Linked DNA regions of Homo sapiens. The protein of the gene in region 1 purifies or fractionates together with the protein of each later gene. This does not show direct contact. Each region holds a gene or a part of one and is shown in the gene's direction. Other genes may lie near its edges. The genes, in order: AGRN and NID2.

The links.
Region 2: the proteins of AGRN (region 1) and NID2 purify together in Homo sapiens (affinity purification with mass spectrometry; 2 studies listed by BioGRID and IntAct, with this or other methods). This does not show direct contact.

Annotation. Positions count from the first base shown.
Region 1 is NC_000001.11:1,048,787-1,058,432, forward strand, and holds the end of AGRN (agrin isoform 2 precursor), read left to right. Parts: intron 1-80; coding exon 81-273; intron 274-449; coding exon 450-665; intron 666-779; coding exon 780-1,009; intron 1,010-1,116; coding exon 1,117-1,251; intron 1,252-1,446; coding exon 1,447-1,543; intron 1,544-1,640; coding exon 1,641-1,805; intron 1,806-1,939; coding exon 1,940-2,051; intron 2,052-2,245; coding exon of another isoform or gene 2,246-2,257; intron 2,258-2,466; coding exon 2,467-2,583; intron 2,584-2,666; coding exon 2,667-2,859; intron 2,860-2,941; coding exon 2,942-3,029; intron 3,030-3,206; coding exon of another isoform or gene 3,207-3,230; intron 3,231-4,674; coding exon of another isoform or gene 4,675-4,707; intron 4,708-4,966; coding exon 4,967-5,191; intron 5,192-5,661; coding exon 5,662-5,765; intron 5,766-6,037; coding exon 6,038-6,195; 3' UTR 6,196-6,590; coding exon of another isoform or gene 6,591-6,613; 3' UTR 6,614-7,330; downstream 7,331-9,646. UniProt on the Homo sapiens protein: Isoform 1, isoform 4 and isoform 5: neuron-specific (z+) isoforms that contain C-terminal insertions of 8-19 AA are potent activators of AChR clustering.
Region 2 is NC_000014.9:52,035,973-52,047,121, reverse strand, and holds part of NID2 (nidogen-2 precursor), read left to right. Parts: intron 1-4,190; coding exon 4,191-4,340; intron 4,341-4,771; coding exon 4,772-5,017; intron 5,018-6,270; coding exon 6,271-6,471; intron 6,472-8,144; coding exon 8,145-8,375; intron 8,376-11,149.

The DNA of each region.
Region 1 (9,646 bases):
AAAGCAGGGGGCGGTTTCAGGGATAAAAGTGGGGAATCCTCGGAGCTTTTCCAGCCGGCCCTCCCGGTCGCCCTTTGCAGTGCTTGGCGCCCCTGTGCCGGCCTTCGAGGGCCGCTCCTTCCTGGCCTTCCCCACTCTCCGCGCCTACCACACGCTGCGCCTGGCACTGGAATTCCGGGCGCTGGAGCCTCAGGGGCTGCTGCTGTACAATGGCAACGCCCGGGGCAAGGACTTCCTGGCATTGGCGCTGCTAGATGGCCGCGTGCAGCTCAGGTGGGCGGGGAGGGGACGGGGCCGGGGCAGCTCAGGTGGGCGGGGAGGGGACGGGCGGGGGAGGGGGGGCCGGGGCAGCTCAGGTGGGTGGGGTGGGGACGGGGGCGGGGCAGCTCAGGTAGGCGGGGTGGGGACGGGGCCGGGCGATGGTCCTGAGCACCTGCTCCTGCCCTCAGGTTTGACACAGGTTCGGGGCCGGCGGTGCTGACCAGTGCCGTGCCGGTAGAGCCGGGCCAGTGGCACCGCCTGGAGCTGTCCCGGCACTGGCGCCGGGGCACCCTCTCGGTGGATGGTGAGACCCCTGTTCTGGGCGAGAGTCCCAGTGGCACCGACGGCCTCAACCTGGACACAGACCTCTTTGTGGGCGGCGTACCCGAGGACCAGGCTGCCGTGTGAGTCCCTTGGAGGGTGGTGTGGCCCCGACCCCGGCCCTTTGGGGTCCCGGTGTACGAGGTGGCTTTGCCTGTGGCCCCTGAGCCCTGACCCGGTGTCCCTCCTGGTGGCAGGGCGCTGGAGCGGACCTTCGTGGGCGCCGGCCTGAGGGGGTGCATCCGTTTGCTGGACGTCAACAACCAGCGCCTGGAGCTTGGCATTGGGCCGGGGGCTGCCACCCGAGGCTCTGGCGTGGGCGAGTGCGGGGACCACCCCTGCCTGCCCAACCCCTGCCATGGCGGGGCCCCATGCCAGAACCTGGAGGCTGGAAGGTTCCATTGCCAGTGCCCGCCCGGCCGCGTCGGTGAGGGTGGGGCCGGGGCGGGTGGGAGTGGGACCCCGGGGCCTGTGGGCGGTACCCAACCGACGCCTCCTGGGACCTCGGTCCCGGTCCCGTCTTCCTCCATCCAGGACCAACCTGTGCCGATGAGAAGAGCCCCTGCCAGCCCAACCCCTGCCATGGGGCGGCGCCCTGCCGTGTGCTGCCCGAGGGTGGTGCTCAGTGCGAGTGCCCCCTGGGGCGTGAGGGCACCTTCTGCCAGACAGGTCGGGGGCGTGGGGCTCTCGGGGCAGGGGGGGGGGGGGGGTTGAACGTTTGGGCGGGTACAGGTTCCAGGTAGCATTGCAGTTAGGATGCGGCTCAGTCTAGTCTGGGTTTTGAGTTAGGATCCACACACGGCTGGCATGGGGTGCAGGAGGCCCCGGGGGTCAGGACTGAGGCCTTGGTGACTCTCCCTACAGCCTCGGGGCAGGACGGCTCTGGGCCCTTCCTGGCTGACTTCAACGGCTTCTCCCACCTGGAGCTGAGAGGCCTGCACACCTTTGCACGGGACCTGGGGTCGGTGGGGCAGGAGCAGGGGGAAGGGCCGGCCCCCACCTCCGTCTCTCCTGTGGGGAGGGGACAGCAAAGACACCCCGACTCCCCATGACCCCAGGGAGAAGATGGCGCTGGAGGTCGTGTTCCTGGCACGAGGCCCCAGCGGCCTCCTGCTCTACAACGGGCAGAAGACGGACGGCAAGGGGGACTTCGTGTCGCTGGCACTGCGGGACCGCCGCCTGGAGTTCCGCTACGACCTGGGCAAGGGGGCAGCGGTCATCAGGTGGGCCGGCAAGGGTGGCTCTGGGAGGCCTGGGGCACTGGCCCGGGGCCGGGGCACCAGCAGGTCGCTCAGGCCCTGGGTGGTCGCGTGGCCGGTGGTGGACAGAGCCCACTCACGCTGCCCCTCCTCACCAGGAGCAGGGAGCCAGTCACCCTGGGAGCCTGGACCAGGGTCTCACTGGAGCGAAACGGCCGCAAGGGTGCCCTGCGTGTGGGCGACGGCCCCCGTGTGTTGGGGGAGTCCCCGGTGAGTGCTCTGGGCCGCGAGGGGACTCCCGCTGCTGCCTGCTCTTCCTCCTCGGGCGGCAGCCCCGCCCCTGCCGGCGCTCACGGAGCTGTTTTTCTGTCCTGTTCTCTTGGCCGCCTGCCCTGTCCTCTGCCTCCTCTGCCTCCCTGCTCTCTGCTCTCGCTCTGCAACCCCACCCGCTCTTCGGAGGCCAGAAATCCCGCAAGGTACTGTCGGCCTCTCATCCGCTCACCGTCTCTGGCGCCTCAACCCCTAGGGTAGCTCCTCCCCCACTAAGGACCCTGCCATTTCTGTGTGATTAACGCTGCCCCCTAGATAGGCAATGGGCGGGTGGGGCGGGTGCGTGCAGGTGCCTGGGCCCTGGGTCTGCACCGTGGGTGGGCTCTGCACAGCCACTTACCTGGCGTCCCCGCAGGTTCCGCACACCGTCCTCAACCTGAAGGAGCCGCTCTACGTAGGGGGCGCTCCCGACTTCAGCAAGCTGGCCCGTGCTGCTGCCGTGTCCTCTGGCTTCGACGGTGCCATCCAGCTGGTATGTGGGGGCGGGGCGTCCCAGCAGGGCCTCCGGGGCGGGCGGGGTGGCAGGCGGGACAAGGCCCTCACCCTGCCCTGCAGGTCTCCCTCGGAGGCCGCCAGCTGCTGACCCCGGAGCACGTGCTGCGGCAGGTGGACGTCACGTCCTTTGCAGGTCACCCCTGCACCCGGGCCTCAGGCCACCCCTGCCTCAATGGGGCCTCCTGCGTCCCGAGGGAGGCTGCCTATGTGTGCCTGTGTCCCGGGGGATTCTCAGGACCGCACTGCGAGAAGGGTGAGCCTGGCACAGGGCAGGGGGCGGAGGCCGGATGGGCCCGGAGCCCACGAGGCCCCACCCTCACCTGCCTATCTCACAGGGCTGGTGGAGAAGTCAGCGGGGGACGTGGATACCTTGGCCTTTGACGGGCGGACCTTTGTCGAGTACCTCAACGCTGTGACCGAGAGGTAACGTGCCATCCTCTGCTGGCTGTCGGTTCCATCTGTGCCCTCGGGGCGGGACACCGGACCCCCACACCAGGAGGGCCCAGGAGGGGACGGCCCGGTGCTGCCACCTCTGTCCTCCCGCCTCTCTCTCACCTCCCGGTCCTCCCGCCTCTCACTGTCTGTCTCTTTGTTTCCAAGCGAACTGGCCAATGAGATCCCCGTGTGAGTAGAGCTCGGCGCCCCCCGCTCCCTCTCACTCCCACTCCTCCATCCTTCCTGGTGGGGAGCAGAGTCCGGAGCCCCCGGGGAACTTTCCATCCCTTGTGGCGGAGGATGGGGGTCCGGCGCTATTTGGCTGCAAGAGGCCGTTTCCTGCCTCAGAAGTGCAGTCGCCCCTCCCAGGGCACAGGCCGAGGGTCGCCCCACAGCCAACCCCCACCACTGAGGCTGTACACACCTGTGCGCATATGCATGCATGTCTGTGTCCGTGTGCACTTCCGCGTGTGTGAACATGCAGCTGTGTCTGTGCGTGTCTATGTATATGGAGTGGATGTGCAAGTGTGTGTGAATATCCAGCTGTGTGTGTGCATGGGTCCATGTATATGTGTGTGTGTATATGTGGGGGGGACATGTAGATATGCGTGTGTGACTATGCGGCCGTGTGTGTGCATGGCTCCATGTATGTGTGTGTATATGAGGGAGACATGCAGGTATGTGTCCGTGTGTGTGTGTGTGCATATGGGTCCATGTATGTGTGTGTATATGAGGGAGACACGCAGGTGTGTGTCTGAGTGTGTGCGCACATGGGTCCATGTATGTGTGTGTATAGGTGAGGGAGACATGCATGTGTGTGTCCGTGTGTGTGCATGGGTCCATGTGTGTATAGTGTGTACACATGGGTCCATGTATGTGTGTGTATATGAGGGAGACACGCAGGTGTGTGTCCGAGTGTGTGTGCATGGGTCCATGTGTGTATAGTGTGTGCACATGGGTCCATGTATGTGTGTGTATATGAGGGAGACACGCAGGTGTGTGTCCGAGTGTGTGTCCATGGGTCCATGTATGTGTGTGTATATGTGGGGGAGACAGGTGTGTGTCCGAGTGTGTGCATGGGTCCGTGTATATGCGTGTATATATGGGGGGATATGTAGATGTGTGTGTGTATGAACAGGTGTAAGTGGGGAGCACTCAGGTGTGTCTGTGTGTGTTCGTGTACACGTGTGTATGTGTGTGAACATGGAGGGGTGTGTGTGTCCGTGTGTAGGTTTGCGTGCATGCACACATGCATGTGTGTACTGGGGCATCCAAGCCCCTGGTCTCCACTCCATACCACCCTACGCCTACCTCCTTGATCTCTGCGCCCAGCCTTGGCTGTGCTCCCCTGCTGTCTGCACGTGGGTGTCTGCACGTGGGTGTCTGCATGTGGGTGTCTGTGCCCTCAAGTGTCTCGTGTCTGCACGTGGGTGTCTGCACCCTCACGTGTCTCGTGTCCGCACAAGCATGTGTAGGTGTCCCTGCTGGGCTCTTTGGTGGGCGGCCAGTGATCCTCGAGGTCACGCATGTCTTCTGTGGGTGCCTGCTCCTTGCACCCCACAGTGTTGAGATGGGTTTGCATTGGCCCCGCCTGTCCCCTGCTCACCCGCCTCCCTCTCTTCCTGCTTCTAAGCCCCGAAACTCTGGATTCCGGGGCCCTTCACAGGTGAGCACGTGGCAGCAGTGCCTGCAGACCCCTGGCTGGCCCATCTGTCCTCCCGCCCGTCTCTCTGATCTCTCTCTGCCAGGCTGCCCCTGTCTCCATCCCTCTTCTCCCTCCCACTGTCGGTGTCTGCCCACCAGCCACCCCTGGGTCCCGTCACAGCCCTTGTGGCCTCCGCAGCTGGGGCCCTTGTCCTCCCGCCTCCCCCACCCTGTCCTGTTGCCACCTTCCTAGAGGCCCTGACCTGCCCTCTGCCCTCCAGCGAGAAGGCACTGCAGAGCAACCACTTTGAACTGAGCCTGCGCACTGAGGCCACGCAGGGGCTGGTGCTCTGGAGTGGCAAGGCCACGGAGCGGGCAGACTATGTGGCACTGGCCATTGTGGACGGGCACCTGCAACTGAGCTACAACCTGGGCTCCCAGCCCGTGGTGCTGCGTTCCACCGTGCCCGTCAACACCAACCGCTGGTTGCGGGTCGTGGCACATAGGTGAGTAGGGAACCCAGCGTGCCGAGAATAGTGGCGAGGGCTGCCCAGACTTGCCCAGCTGGGCTGTGTCCAGTCACTTGTGACCAGGGGTCAGGGAGGACACGCCTTGCTGCCTGAGCCGAGGTCACTGCCAGTGGGAGGAGGAAGGGCCAAGAAGATGCAGGAGAAGCAATGATCAGTTTCCACGTCTGAAAGGCATCCCGGCCCTGCCCGGAGCCTGCCGGGGGTCGCTCCAGTCTGAGCCTGGCCGTCGCCTCCAGCAAAGCTTGAGCTGCAGGAATGTCCCCGGCCTTGGCTCCCAGTGCCCTCCTTGGGGTCAAGGCCACCTCATCCTTGCCCCCAGGGGTGATACCTCGGGGGTTCTCCAGGCTGAGGCACCTGCAGGGCATAGGAAGGATGCAGGGCTTATGGTCTAGAGGAGGCAGAGGGAACTCTGGGCCCTGATGGTCTCCCCCTCCCTGCACACCCAGGGAGCAGAGGGAAGGTTCCCTGCAGGTGGGCAATGAGGCCCCTGTGACCGGCTCCTCCCCGCTGGGCGCCACGCAGCTGGACACTGATGGAGCCCTGTGGCTTGGTGAGTGTTTTGGGGAGACTAGAGAGGGATGCCCAAGGGTCTCATGATATCCGAGGGACAGACTCCACCCCCCAGCGCCCACCCTTGAGTCAGGGTGCATGTGAGCCGGCGGGCTGGGCTCTCTTCTCCCGCTGTAGCCCCTGCAGTTCCCAGTGCTGTGGGGCCGGGAGGCGGGTGCCCAGGTGTGGGCCCCCTGCTGGTCACCTGCTCGTTGGGGTGCCCATCAGCATCACTGAGTCACAGCCGGGTGACTCCCACTGTCTGTGCTGCAGGGGGCCTGCCGGAGCTGCCCGTGGGCCCAGCACTGCCCAAGGCCTACGGCACAGGCTTTGTGGGCTGCTTGCGGGACGTGGTGGTGGGCCGGCACCCGCTGCACCTGCTGGAGGACGCCGTCACCAAGCCAGAGCTGCGGCCCTGCCCCACCCCATGAGCTGGCACCAGAGCCCCGCGCCCGCTGTAATTATTTTCTATTTTTGTAAACTTGTTGCTTTTTGATATGATTTTCTTGCCTGAGTGTTGGCCGGAGGGACTGCTGGCCCGGCCTCCCTTCCGTCCAGGCAGCCGTGCTGCAGACAGACCTAGTGCCGAGGGATGGACAGGCGAGGTGGCAGCGTGGAGGGCTCGGCGTGGATGGCAGCCTCAGGACACACACCCCTGCCTCAAGGTGCTGAGCCCCCGCCTTGCACTGCGCCTGCCCCACGGTGTCCCCGCCGGGAAGCAGCCCCGGCTCCTGAATCACCCTCGCTCCGTCAGGCGGGACTCGTGTCCCAGAGAGGAAGGGGCTGCTGAGGTCTGATGGGGCCCTTCCTCCGGGTGACCCCACAGGGCCTTTCCAAGCCCCCATTTGAGCTGCTCCTTCCTGTGTGTGCTCTGGGCCCTGCCTCGGCCTCCTGCGCCAATACTGTGACTTCCAAACAATGTTACTGCTGGGCACAGCTCTGCGTTGCTCCCGTGCTGCCTGCGCCAGCCCCAGGCTGCTGAGGAGCAGAGGCCAGACCAGGGCCGATCTGGGTGTCCTGACCCTCAGCTGGCCCTGCCCAGCCACCCTGGACGTGACCGTATCCCTCTGCCACACCCCAGGCCCTGCGAGGGGCTATCGAGAGGAGCTCACTGTGGGATGGGGTTGACCTCTGCCGCCTGCCTGGGTATCTGGGCCTGGCCATGGCTGTGTTCTTCATGTGTTGATTTTATTTGACCCCTGGAGTGGTGGGTCTCATCTTTCCCATCTCGCCTGAGAGCGGCTGAGGGCTGCCTCACTGCAAATCCTCCCCACAGCGTCAGTGAAAGTCGTCCTTGTCTCAGAATGACCAGGGGCCAGCCAGTGTCTGACCAAGGTCAAGGGGCAGGTGCAGAGGTGGCAGGGATGGCTCCGAAGCCAGAAATGCCTTAAACTGCAACGTCCCGTCCCTTCCCCACCCCCATCCCATCCCCACCCCCAGCCCCAGCCCAGTCCTCCTAGGAGCAGGACCCGATGAAGCGGGCGGCGGTGGGGCTGGGTGCCGTGTTACTAACTCTAGTATGTTTCTGTGTCAATCGCTGTGAAATAAAGTCTGAAAACTTTAAAAGCATTGCTTTTGTCCATCCTCACCAGCGCGCTGGCCCGTTGGCTTCTTGCTCCGCTTTGTGGTGGGAGCACGGACTTGGAGCTCCCTTGGGTGGCCCTGGATGGAGCCAGGCCCTGCACAGGGATCCTTGTGGCTGATGAGGCCCTGAGTGGGGAGCACACACTGCTGAGCACTGTGGGAGGCGGGGCCGTGGAGGCAGGAGGCTCTCTGGCGTGCACGTGTGGGTGCGTGTACGTGTGGGGGTGTGTGTGTGTGGGTGCGGGTACGTGTGGGTGCATGTGCCTGCTCTCTGGCGTGCACGTGTGGGTGCGGGTACGTGTGGGTGCGGGTACGTGTGGGTGCATGTGCGTGTGGGTGCGTGTGCCTGCTCTCTGGCGTGCACGTGTGGGTACGTGTGGGTGTGGGTGCGTGTGCCTGCTCTCCGGCGTGCATGTATGGGTGCATGTACGTGTGTGTGGGTGCGTGTGCCTGCTCTCCGGCGTGTATGTGTGGGTGCGTGTGCGTGTGGGTGCGTGTGCTTGCTCTCCGGCGTGCATGTGTGGGTGCATGTACGTGTGTGGGTGCGTGTGCCTGCTCTCCGGCGTGTATGTGTGGGTGTGTGTGCCTGCTCTCTGGCGTGCACGTGTGTGTGTGTGTGTGTGTGCCTGCACACATAATTGGCCCACATCTGTGTCAGAGCACAGGGTTGGGAGGAGGCTGCACCCAGGACTGGAAGGGTCTGGGGGGAGCCAGGGTGCGTGGGGCTGTTGGGCAGCCTTTTCACTGGCCCAGGTGTGCAGAACCAACCCTTGGCACTGCTGGAAGCCCCTAACTAGAAACCCCTGGGGTAGCTGGGCTCCTGGACTCCCTCTAACCTGCTTCCTAAATTAGTGTGTGGGTGACAGCACTGCAGAAGCTGAGCCTCAGGGAAGGGCGCGGTGGCTCACACCTGTCATCCCAGCACTTTGGGAGGCTGAGGCTGGAGGATCGCTTGAGGCCAAGAGTGGGAGATCAGCTTGGGCAACATAGTGAGACCCCATCTCTGCAAAAAAATTTCTTTAATTAGCCAGGCGTGGTGGTACACACCTGTAGCTCCAGCTACTCCGGAGGCTGAGGCAGGAGGATCACTTGAATCCAGGAGGTTGAGGCAGCAGCAAGCTGTGATTGCACCACTGCACTCCAGCCTGGGTGACAGAGCGAGAACCTGTCTAAAAAACAGAGCTGGCACCCAGCACCGGCAGATGTGAGCCCTGGGGAGAAGCAGGGGAAGAAGGGGTAGGGTGTGTGGCCAGCTGGGTGGCCCTTCGCAAACTGCTGTCTCTTATGAAAAATAACTAAGTGTAGTTTTCTATTTTGTATTAATGATTTTAAAAAAAAAGCCAGGTGCGCTGGCTCACACCTGTAATCCTAGCACTTTGGGAGGCCGAGGCGGGTGGATCACCTGAGGTCAGGAGTTCAAGACGAGCCTGGCCAACATGGTGAAACCCTGTCTCTCCTAAAATACAAAAACTGGCTGGGCATGATGGTGGGTGCCTGTAGTCCCAGCTACTCCGGAGGCTGAGACGGGAGAATTGCTTGAACCCAGGAGACGGTGGTTGCAGTGAGCCGAGATCACGCCATTGCACTCCAGCCTCAGTGGCTGAAGGAGACTCCGTCTCAAAAAAAAAAAGAAAAAAGAAAACCACAAAAACATCGAAATAAAATAACACCAATGGCTGGGCACATTGGCTCATGCCTATAATCCCAGCACTTTGGGAGGCTGAGGCAGGCGGATCACCTGAGGTCAGGAGTTCAACACCAGACTGGCCAACATGGTGAAACCCTGTATCTACTAAAAACACAAACATCTGGGCGTGGTGGCAGGTATCTGTAATCCCAGTTACTCGGGAGGCTGAGGCACGAGAATCGCTTGAACCCGGGAGGCGGAGGTTGCAGTGAGCCGCGATTGCACCACTGCACTCCAGCGTGGGCGACAGAGCGCGACTCCGTTTCAAAAAAAAAATGAAAAGATAATACCCACAAGCTCCACACCCAGGAGGTCCCATGCGTCTGAGTGTTTGCTTTCTGGGCTTTTCATCACCTGGTCCTCTGGGGATATGCTGACCGACCCTGTGTGCCTGGCAGGTGTCAGGCACTGGGGGTCGGGGAGGAGAGAGTCCAGGAGCGGTGGCCACACACAGGTCGCTGACGGTGGGGGGCCAGGGTGGGGGCAGACTAACTTTGGTTTTCAGGAAAGGTCCAGAGAAAACACGCCCAAACCCAGACCCGAAGCATGAGCAGGGGGAGGGCAGGTGAGGAGGCCAGAGGCGGGGCATGTGGTGTGGGTCCATTGGACGG
Region 2 (11,149 bases), on another chromosome or scaffold:
TGCCATGTCCTCAGTTTCTAGACTAGGTACAGGTCTATAGTGAATGCTCAGTAAATACTTGTTGAATTAGTGAATGAATGAACAAAAATTGTAAGAAGCATTTACCTTTCACCTAACAAGCTGCCATTGTAAATGGTAAGTGTGCAAACCTGTGTGTGCACTTGGGTATGAAGGCAGGCGTGGAAGAGGGATTATAAATGGAGGCTTGCCTTCCCCCGGATTAGGGGCTGATCCATCTTCTTTCCTTCATGTGGCTGTTATGAAGCTGAAAGAGACAGTGTGTGTTCTTGGCTCAGTAAGTACCATCCTAAAAATACAATATTCCACAAAACTGTTTAAAAAGACTCCCAGGTTAGCTTAACAGTAACTAGTTAGCCCATTGTAATTACAGTTTAAGTCTCATAATAGCCTTTCATGGGAGCCTGCTCATTGTTATAACTTCTTTTTCTGTAATAGAAAAATGTAGTACAGCTTCCAATCTATTTATAAACCTTTGCACAGTTGCACTTGTAAGTTGCTGGCTGCATCGCCCTGCCTCTTTTTACTTAGATAAAAGCTATGACTCCACCTAGTTTAACTCTCCATATCTAGACTGTCTCTCCTCCATCTTCTCTCTCCTTGTTTCATAATTCAGCCTCAGAATAAGAATTGGGTTGCAGAATAAGGCTTCACAAAATAACTGAAATAAGATACAATCCAAGCCTGTTATTTCCTTAATTTGTGGGCAGAACAGCTTGTAAAGTTTGGATTGATTTTTATCTGAATATTATGAAAACGGCTTTTTTTTTTTTTTTTTTTTGAGATGGAGTCTCTCTCTGTCGCCCAGGCTGGAGTGCAGTGGTGCGATCTCGGCTCACTGCAAGCTCCGCCTGCCAGATTCACGCCATTCTCCTGCCTCAGCCTCCCGAGTAGCTGGGACTACAGGCGCCCACCACCACGCCTGGCTAATTTTTTGTATTTTTAGTAGAGACGGGGTTTCACCGTGTTAGCCAGGATGGTCTCAGTCTCCTGACCTCGTGATCCGCCTGCCTCGGCCTCCCAAAGTGCTGGGATTACAGGTGTGAGCTGCCGGGCCCAGCCAAATGGCTGTTCTTTAGACCTATAGCAGATTGCCTTTTTACTTGGTGTTCAGAAGTACATTAAGAAGAAATGCGACTTCTGGCAATGCAGGGGTGAGGAAGAGGTGTTCTACTTATTTTAGAGATGAGGAAGCTGAAAGACAGTTTGCATAGTTTCCACAAAGCCCCCGAGGGAGGGCTGAGGTTGAGTCCTAGAGCTTGGCGCTTTCTGCAGCCCCTCATTCCTTGAGCTCTGGGAGAAAGTCCTGATGGCCCTTAAGCCATGAGCACACTGGTGAGTGTGTGAGTCCCTCCTGTAGCTGCTTCCTTACACTTAGTTGTGAATTTCTGAGCTGGAGAAACCTGAGATTTTGACACATCCAAGTTACATTCATTTCCTTTTACTCTAAATGTTTTTTTCCCTTTCTTAAACTAATAGACAGTGATACAGTTTTCTTCACAGCCATCTATTTTACCATGATCCATCCTGGGTTTTTTTTTTTTTTTTTTCTGCCTTGAGTTTTATATCACTTTTCTGTTTAAGTTAAGCTTGTCACTTTCTTGTTTAAATAAAGTTGAGTCATGCCTAATTTTCTATTTTTATCAAACTGGAATTTCTTAGCCAAGTCATCAAGGCCCTATACTAAATCTTGAGTCATAACTTCATTCCTACTATGTTCTAATCAGATTTTCCACTTGAACCTACACTGTCTGTCCTGCCAACCCTCAGCTTGCTGCTTTCCCAAGGATCTGCAGGCAGCACTCCAGTACTGTTCAAAAGCTAATGCCGCTGCTGCTACTCTCATTTCTTACCTGTGCTGTTTTTCAACATGCTGTAATAGTCATCTCGATAATCTTCCCTGCTTGCTTCTACCATTAAACCCAGTTTATAAAGTATGACTCGAATTATACTTGAAGTCTGTGCTGATTAACCCCAGACATGTGGTGACCCCTAATCTAGTGCTCATGATCTCCGTACTTGGATCCCATTGAAGGGGTCGTGGAGAGTAGCAGTTAAGATTCTCCAGCTAGATGTCCTAGGTTCGGTTCCCACCTTTGCCACTCACTGCCTATGCGACTTCAGGTGCTTTAGTCTACTGTGCCTCAGCTTTATCTGCAAACGGGTTAAAAAATTGTCCCTGGCCAGAGTGGTGGCTCATACCTGTAATCCCAGCATTTTGGGAGGCCTAGGTGGGAAGATCACTTGAGCCCAGGAGTTCGAGACCGAGACCAACCTGGGCAACGCAGGGAGACCCCTCCCCCCAACCCACCCTACCAAAAAATAAAGTAGGCAGGTGTGATGCATGCTTGTGGCTGCGGCTACTCAAAAGGCTGAAATAGGAGGATCACTTGAGCCTGGGAAGTCGAGCTTTCAGTGAGCCGAGATGGCACCACTGCTCTCCAGCTTGGGTGACAGAGCAAAACCCTGTCTCAACAACAGCAACAAAAAAAAGTCCCTGCTACCTAGGGTTGTTGTGCAAATTAAGAGTTGTTGGCCGGGCGGGGTGGCTCACGCCTGTTATCCCAGCACTTTGGGAGGCCGAGGCAGGTGGATCACGAGGTCAGGAGATCAGGACCATCCTGGCTAACATGGTGAAACCCTGTCTCTACTAAAAAATACAAAAAATTAGTCAGGCGTGGTGGTGGGTGCCTGTAGTCCCAGCTACTCAGGAGGCTGAGGCAAGAGAATGGCGTGAACCTGGGAGGTGGAGCTTGCAGTGAGCTGTGATCGTGCCACTGCACTCCAGCCTGGGCGACAGAGCGAGACTCCGTTTCAAAAAAAAAAAAAAAAAAAAAGGTTGTTAAATGTAAAGCTTGTATATGTTAAGCGCGATTGAAGTGTTAACTTTGTTATATTTTTATTTGCTGATGGAGGTCTTTATCTTGGTGACATTGTACCTATAATGCTATGTCTCATTAGCTCCTTTACTTTCTGTTCTCCCTGGGAATACTGGGTAAAGATTGATCTTTGGATTTCTTCCTCCCCTCCTGTCTCCTCGTTTCCAGATAGACCTGGAACACAACTACCACTTGGTTTTTCCTAAGAGTAGGGTGGGTGTCCTCCTTCATGCCAGCATCCGTGTCTCACACTAGAATTCCATGCCATCCCTGCTCAACAGCATGCTCCTGGAGTCTCCAGCCAACTCCACCTCCTGGGGATGTGGAGGCAGAGGTGTGTGCAGCCGCTTGGCCTCCTGGTGGCCATGCTTGGGATTGGCATATTTCCTAGTGCCCCGGAGAAAGCACCCTCCTGTCCATCCACAACCCCCGCCACACCCTACCCCCTTGGCTATTTCCTTTATGAACTATGGCATTTGCTCCAGTTTCCCCATTTCTTTGCAGCACAGATGGCCCTCTTCTTTTAATGGGCAGAATAAGTAGGAAATGGAAGAAACAGCTGCCAGAGCACTGAATTTATCCTAGTCCTCCATAATTTCTTGGAAGATCTGCGAGTGGGGCCCAAGCTGTCTGCTACTGCGTGGAAATCATGCTTGTACCATACCCATCATAGTTAAACCCTGCCAAGGGCATAGGGCATTTTAATAGCTTGAATCCCTGTTGTTTTGCCCTCCTCTGTCCCCTTCTCCCCATGCCTTTTCTTTGAGGTAGGTGCGTGTGTTCTTTAAGACCCTTCCCTCAAAACAATCTTGGTAGCGAGACCAGCTATTATCTTTTTTAAGTTCAGTGTTCCCTAAAAGAAGGATGGTTAGACATAAGACATTTGTTAGCTTCTCTATTATGTCTTCCTCTCAGGATGTGTTTAGGTTGAACCATATAAAAGTGCTGATATTTAGCCCTTTTTGACCCACAAAAATAGTGGTTTCATGAAGTTCAACCTAACATGTACTTACTGGTTTGCTTTCATTTTACTGCACTCAAACCCACGGGTGCAGTCTCATCTTAGTTCACCAACTCTGCAATGGGACCCAGCCGGGAGCAGTAAGCAATTCTTCTTGCCAGCAGACAAAGCAGATTAATTCCCTTGGGTTGAATGTTATGCCGGTCTCTTAAACATCAAAAACTGTTTGTTATGATCTAAACTGCTTCTATGGAGCAGATGTTGTGTCCCCGATGCAGCAGTGACATTGGAATCATTTAGTCCTTTTAAGGCAAGTTTGTTTTATTTTTCAGTCTTCACGTATAATGCTGCCAACAAGGAAACCTGTGAACACAACCACAGACAATGCTCCCGGCATGCCTTCTGCACGGACTATGCCACTGGCTTCTGCTGCCACTGCCAATCCAAGTTTTATGGAAATGGGAAGCACTGTCTGCCTGAAGGTAATTGACTGGGGCCAGGAACTCCTGTGTGTCTATTCCTGCTGCTTACCTGTTTCCAGCTACCACTGTGAGCTCTGCTTTATGGACCAAACATCTCCACTACTTAAATCAGAGTGCTATCAACTTGCAGGTGCTCAATAAATGTGTGAGGAATGAACTGGTTTGGGCTGATTCCCAATTTGAGGATTATCCAGAAATGCTTCCTTCTGCCAGCTCATTAGAGCCAAAGTGTAGTGGAGTAGAAGGAGGAGGGGAGAAAACAGACTGGAGGCAGGACTGTTTCATAGATGGATAATTGGTTGGTTAGGAAATCATTAAAGTGACTTGCTAAAGAGTGAGTTTTGGAAGTTGTCAGTGGAATAATTATACCTGGGTACACCCATCTCTAGCCAGGATGACGTCCAAGCCTAACTGGATTTGCTGTCTTTTAGGGGCACCTCACCGAGTGAATGGGAAAGTGAGTGGCCACCTCCACGTGGGCCATACACCCGTGCACTTCACTGATGTGGACCTGCATGCGTATATCGTGGGCAATGATGGCAGAGCCTACACGGCCATCAGCCACATCCCACAGCCAGCAGCCCAGGCCCTCCTCCCCCTCACACCAATTGGAGGCCTGTTTGGCTGGCTCTTTGCTTTAGAAAAACCTGGCTCTGAGAACGGCTTCAGCCTCGCAGGTGAGTAGGGCCTCTGAGAAGGCCGGTAGTCAGCATTGCTTTGGCAGTGGTGCTCCTTGGGGCACTGTCTTTAGGCCTTTACGCAGTGACAGAGGAATCACTTGTTTAATGTACTAGAGCCACATGTGTGTAGTTTTCTGGCCACAGGTTGTTGGGAATGGTTTGACCTCACATCACTGATTTTTGAAAGGCAGTGATTTCGTCTAAATGTTCTCCCAGCTGTTCTGAGAAACAGGATGATTCCATTCAGAACATTTGTGTCCTCTTACCCCAATTTGTTGCAGCATATTTGTCAGGCTTTTTAAATTATGCACAGATCTGTCAAATGCAAAAATGGTACTTGGGGCACCTGGGGATGATTTTACTTCATGGGGAAGGGGTGCTCTTCTCCTCCCAGCTCCACAACCTATAATAGTATAGGCCGGTGCACCCCAGACTTGAACCTGCACACACATCACTTGGAGGTCTTGTCAAAATGTAAATTCTGGTTCAGCAGGCCTGGGGTGGGGTCCGTGATTTTGCTTTTCTACCAAGCTAGGAGGTGAGGTACCAGTGTTGCTGGAAAGGCCACCCGTTGACAACAAGGATTTAGAAGATACTTTTTGGATTCTCACCTTCCAACCTGAAAACTTGTTTGCTAGAGGTTTTATCTTTATTGCATTAAAAATAGTTTTGTGAGAAGTTCTTTCTCCATCTTTAACTGCAGAGCTCGGTAGCTGTTAATAGGTTCTTGCTTTAATCAAAATTTGAATAAAGCCCTTGGGTCAAAAGTAGATAAAAAATGGCACACCTGGATAAATTTGTATTTCAGATAAACAATTTTCTAGTATAAGTATTACCCACATATTTCATGAGACATACTTATCTGAAATTCAAACAAAACCCTGAATGTCTTAGGTGGTAGTTTATTTGTTTTTGTTTTTTTGTTGTTAGGTTTATTTGTTTGTTTGTTTTTTGCTAAGTCTAGCAACCTTAGAGAAAAGTCAAGGACGTTCCCAAGAGTATTTCTCACAGAATACAAGCTTGTTCAAAGAGAAGCTGGGTGAGGTAAGGCAGGATGAAACCATATTCTTCAATGGAAAAGTTTGGGAACTTATGGAATCAACAGCTGATAGTGCTTACTCTCAGATATCAGATAATCTCCTTAGGCACGATCTCCAACAGCAGTAGAAATTGGGAGCGGGCAGTATATACTGGTAACTGTTTAAGCAAGACCTCTTTTCATCCCTGTGCTGAATGTTTTTCATCTCCAGGTGCTGCCTTTACCCATGACATGGAAGTTACATTCTACCCGGGAGAGGAGACGGTTCGTATCACTCAAACTGCTGAGGGACTTGACCCAGAGAACTACCTGAGCATTAAGACCAACATTCAAGGCCAGGTGCCTTACGTCTCAGCAAATTTCACAGCCCACATCTCTCCCTACAAGGAGCTGTACCACTACTCCGACTCCAGTATGTATAACCAGTCTTCACATCTGTAAAATGGGGATTATGCCCATCTCACAAGATAGATACAAGGCTTAAATGACTTACATGGCATGTCCTTAGAACAGTGCATGGAACATAAAATGAGCTCTATTATGTTATTACTCTTATTGTTACCATGAAATATATCGTGTAAGTGAGCAGAATGGCTGCTATACATAAGAATATCTATATCCCTACATAGTATTTTCAAATAATAAAATCAATAGCAACATTGTCCATGGGGTGGGTAGGGATGGTATAATTATATACAGTTTTTAACCATCCTACTTTCTGCAACATGGAAAAATAGTGATTATTGGAATTTATATTTATCTCAACCTTGTTTCAGCTGATGAGTTCAGGCTGCTTTAAAAAAAAAAAAAATCACAGAAAGAGGCCAGGTGCAATGGCTCATGCCTGTAATCCCACCACTTTGGGAGGCCAAGGTGGGTGGATCACCTGAGGTCAGGAGTTCAAGACCAGCCTGGCCAACATGGTGAAAACCTGTTTCTACTAAAAATACAAAAATTAGCAGGGTGTGGTGGCACGCTCCTGCGATCCCAGCTACTTGGGAGGCTGAGGCAGGAGAATCATCTGAACCTGGGAAGTGGAGGTTGCAGTGAGCCGAGATTGTGCCATTGTACTCCAGCCTGGGCGACAAAGCAAGACTCCATCTCAAAAACAAAACCAAAAAACACAGAGATGCTATAATTTATTATAAAACTAATGCTAGATTTGGAGTCAAAAGATAAGAATTTATATCCTGGACTTGCCATTTAATATCTATAGGGAAAGGCCTCTTAATATCTGAGAATGTATTTTCTCATCTTTCACATGGAACTAAAAATGCTTTTTCTATATTATGTGATCAATGTGTGCGAAGCGTGATGTGTTCTGTGAAAGTACTACCTGCGCACAGGATGCTGCCTCCATCACAGCTGCTGTTGTGCAGCACAGCAATCCGGATTGAGTTGTGCCTTTCCTCTGACCCCTGCTGCTCCTATGCTGAGAGCTGGCAGCCTGGCAGGAGATGTAGGGAAGACAAGGGGAAGCAGAGACCTGGGCTGTGAACAAAATGGTCAGTGTCCGGATCACTGACCTGAGCTTGACTCCTAGACTCAGATGGTGAGAGACAACCCTTTCCCTTCTCTGGAATCCTTCAGATTTACTGAAGTGCGAGGTGTTGGAAGTCGTCACTTCTGTGAAATGTAGAAGATGGATTGGTTTAAAATTTAGGGTGTAGAGTCAAACCAATGTGAGTTTCAGTTCCAGCTCTACCATGTGGCAGCATTGCATCTTAGGCTACTTAACCTTTGTGAGCCTCTGATCACATGATTTAGTGCCCACCTCACCAGGCTGTTGTGAGGAATAAATGAGGCAGTATGTAGAGAGCACTGTTGGCATGGCTGGCCCTTAGTAACACTTATTCTTTGTGTATAATAACATGGACAATTGTAGTGCCTTCTCCCTCTCAGCACTGTGGCTTTGCATCCACTCAGGTTTTTGGGATTTCCTTACACATTTTTTCATATAAACTCAGGAGGTTCCCAAGGGAACACACTCCAAGAATTAGATGAAAAAAACTGCAGAAAAATCCACCTCACATGAAAATCTCTGTATTTAATATTTTTAAAAAATTACCACTGTGTTTGTTGCAGCTGTGACCTCTACAAGTTCCAGAGACTACTCTCTGACTTTTGGTGCAATCAACCAAACATGGTCCTACCGCATCCACCAGAACATCACTTACCAGGTGTGCAGGCACGCCCCCAGACACCCGTCCTTCCCCACCACCCAGCAGCTGAACGTGGACCGGGTCTTTGCCTTGTATAATGACGAAGAAAGAGTGCTTAGATTTGCTGTGACCAATCAAATTGGCCCGGTCAAAGGTAAGGTTTCCTTTTTTGTTGTTGGGTAAAAATGACATCCTTTTAAGTAGAGTTAGAATGATTCACAGAGGTTACTAAGGGTTACCTAGTGCCATGCTGTGTTATGTGCTAGGTATAAGGATGAATAGAGCAGATCCTTGCCCTTGAGTTGGAAACAGAGGCAGAAAAGAGTTTTAGGGCAGGGAACAGTGTCCCTGCCAAAGTCAGGAAATAGAGCATAGTATGTGAAGCTGGTTTATAGCAATACCCAACTGTGCGTGCCAATCAGGAATATACCTGTGAACAAGGCAGACTGGAATTAGGAGGGAGAGTGATGCTGACAAGTATTTGTTACAAGTGTGATGAGAGCAGGGCACTGTGAGTCTAGTTTGAAGATTCAGAAAAGATGTCCCCAAGAAAGTGACATTTTAGCTAAAACAGATGAGAAGAATTTCATCCAAAACTAAGGTGGAGCAAAGAGCTAGTATCTGGAAAAACCAAACATCATAGAACTTGATGTATAACCTCCCCCTCCATGATTCCCAGAACATTATACTTAATGGTGAAAGACTGGATGCTTTTCCCTGAAGCTTAGGAACAAGACAAGGATGTCTGCTGTTGCCACTTTTATTCAATTCAGTACTAGAATTTCTAGCCAGGGTGATTAGGCAAGAACACAAAATAAAAGCCATCTAAATTGGAAAAGGACAAAGTAAAATTAGTCTCAGATGACATTTTGTGTAGAAAATCTCAGGAATTCACTAAAACACTATTAGAACTAAAGAACAAGTTCGCAATGTTATAAGATATGCAAGATCAGTACACCAAATTGTATTTCTCTATAGTAGCAATGAGCAAACTAAAGATTAAGAAATTGTTTCAAAAAGAGATAAATTTTTAAAAAGAAGTGCAGTACTTGTACATTGCATCCCACAAAACATTTTTGGAAAAAAATTTAAGACCCAGTTAAATGGGAAGATGTTCCACATTCATGGATTGGAAGACTTAATACTGTTAAGATGTGAATACTTCCCAAATTGATCTATTAATTCAACATAATCCCTATCAGAATCTCAGCTGGCTCTTTGAAGAAATTGGCAAGCTGATTCTAGAATTTATATGGAAATTCAAAGAACACAGAATAGCCAAAACAATCTTGGAAAAGAATAAAGTCAGACTTGTATTTCTCAAACTCGAAATCTAGAGTAATCAAGACAGTGTGGTCCTGGCGTAAGGATACATGTAAAGATCAAAGGAACAGAAGTGGGAACCCAGAAATACTCACATTAAAAGTCAATTGCTTTTTCAACAACAGTGCCGGGAGTGGGGAGGGATAGCATTAGGAGATATACCTAATGCTAAATGACGAGTTAATGGGTGCAGCTCACCAACATGGCACATGTACACATATGTAACAAACCTGCACGTTGTAAACATGTACCCTAAAACTTAAAGTATAATAATAATAGAATTCTGATGGTTAAAAGACAAAACAAAACAAAAAACACAGTGCCAAAACAATTCAATGGAGAAAGAATAGTCTTTTAAACTATTGTTAACTATGGTGCTGGGACCACTGAGTGACCACATACAAAAGAATGAAGTTGAACCTTTTACCTCACAGCATATCCAACTCAAAATGGGCCAACAGACCTAAGTGTAAGAGTTAAAACTTTTAGAAGAAAACATATGGGTAAATTTTTGTGACTTTGAATTTGCTAATGGTTTCTTAGGTACGACACTAAAAGCACAAGCAACAGCAAAATAAACTGGGTGTCATCAAAATTTTAACAGTTTGTGCTTCAGAGGACATTATTAACAAAGTGAAAACACAGCCATAGAATGGGAGACAGTATTTTAAATCATGTGATATTTGTTCTAGAGTATACGAAGTATCTTACAACTCAATAAAAAAACAAGCTAACTAAAAGATGGGCAAAAGCTCTGCAAGGACCTCTCTCCAAAAAGATATACAGATACCCAATGGGCATGTGTAAAGATGCTCAGCATCATTAGTCATCAGGGAAATGCAAATCAAAACCACAATGAGATACTACTTTACATCATGTGGTCGAGTATAATCAAAAAACGGGTAATAACAAGTGTTGGCGAGAACATGGAAAATTCGGAACCCTCATACGTTGCTGGTGTGATTATAAAATGATGTGGCTACTGTGAAAAACAAAATAGTGGTTTCTCAAAGTGAAACACAAAGTTACCATTTAATGGAGCAATTCTACTCCTTTCTATATACCCAAAAGAAATGAAAACATAGATCCCCACAAAAACTTATTCGTGTATATTCATAGTGGCAGTATTCATAATAGCCAAAAGGTGGAAGCAACATACATGCCCATCAGTTGATGGACACCAAAAAATATATTCATATACTGGAATATTATTCAACCATAAAAAGGAATGAAGTACGGATACATGCTGCAACATGGATGAACTCTGAAAACCTTAAGTGAAGGTAGTCAGTGACAAAGGACAGCATACTGAATGGTTACAATTATGTGAAATATCCAAAATAGGCAAATCCACATACATAGAAAGCATATTCATGGTTGCCCAGGGCTAAGAGATAATGAGAGCATAGGGCGTTAATAGCTAAAGGGTACAGGGTTAATTTTGGGGGTGATGAAAATGTTCTGAAATTGATTGTGGTGACGGTTGGATAACACTGAATAGACGAAATTGTTTAATTATGTACTTTAAACGGATGAATTGTATGGTATGTGAATTACTTCTCAACTGAAGGCCAGGCATACTGGCTTATGCCTGTAATCCCAGCA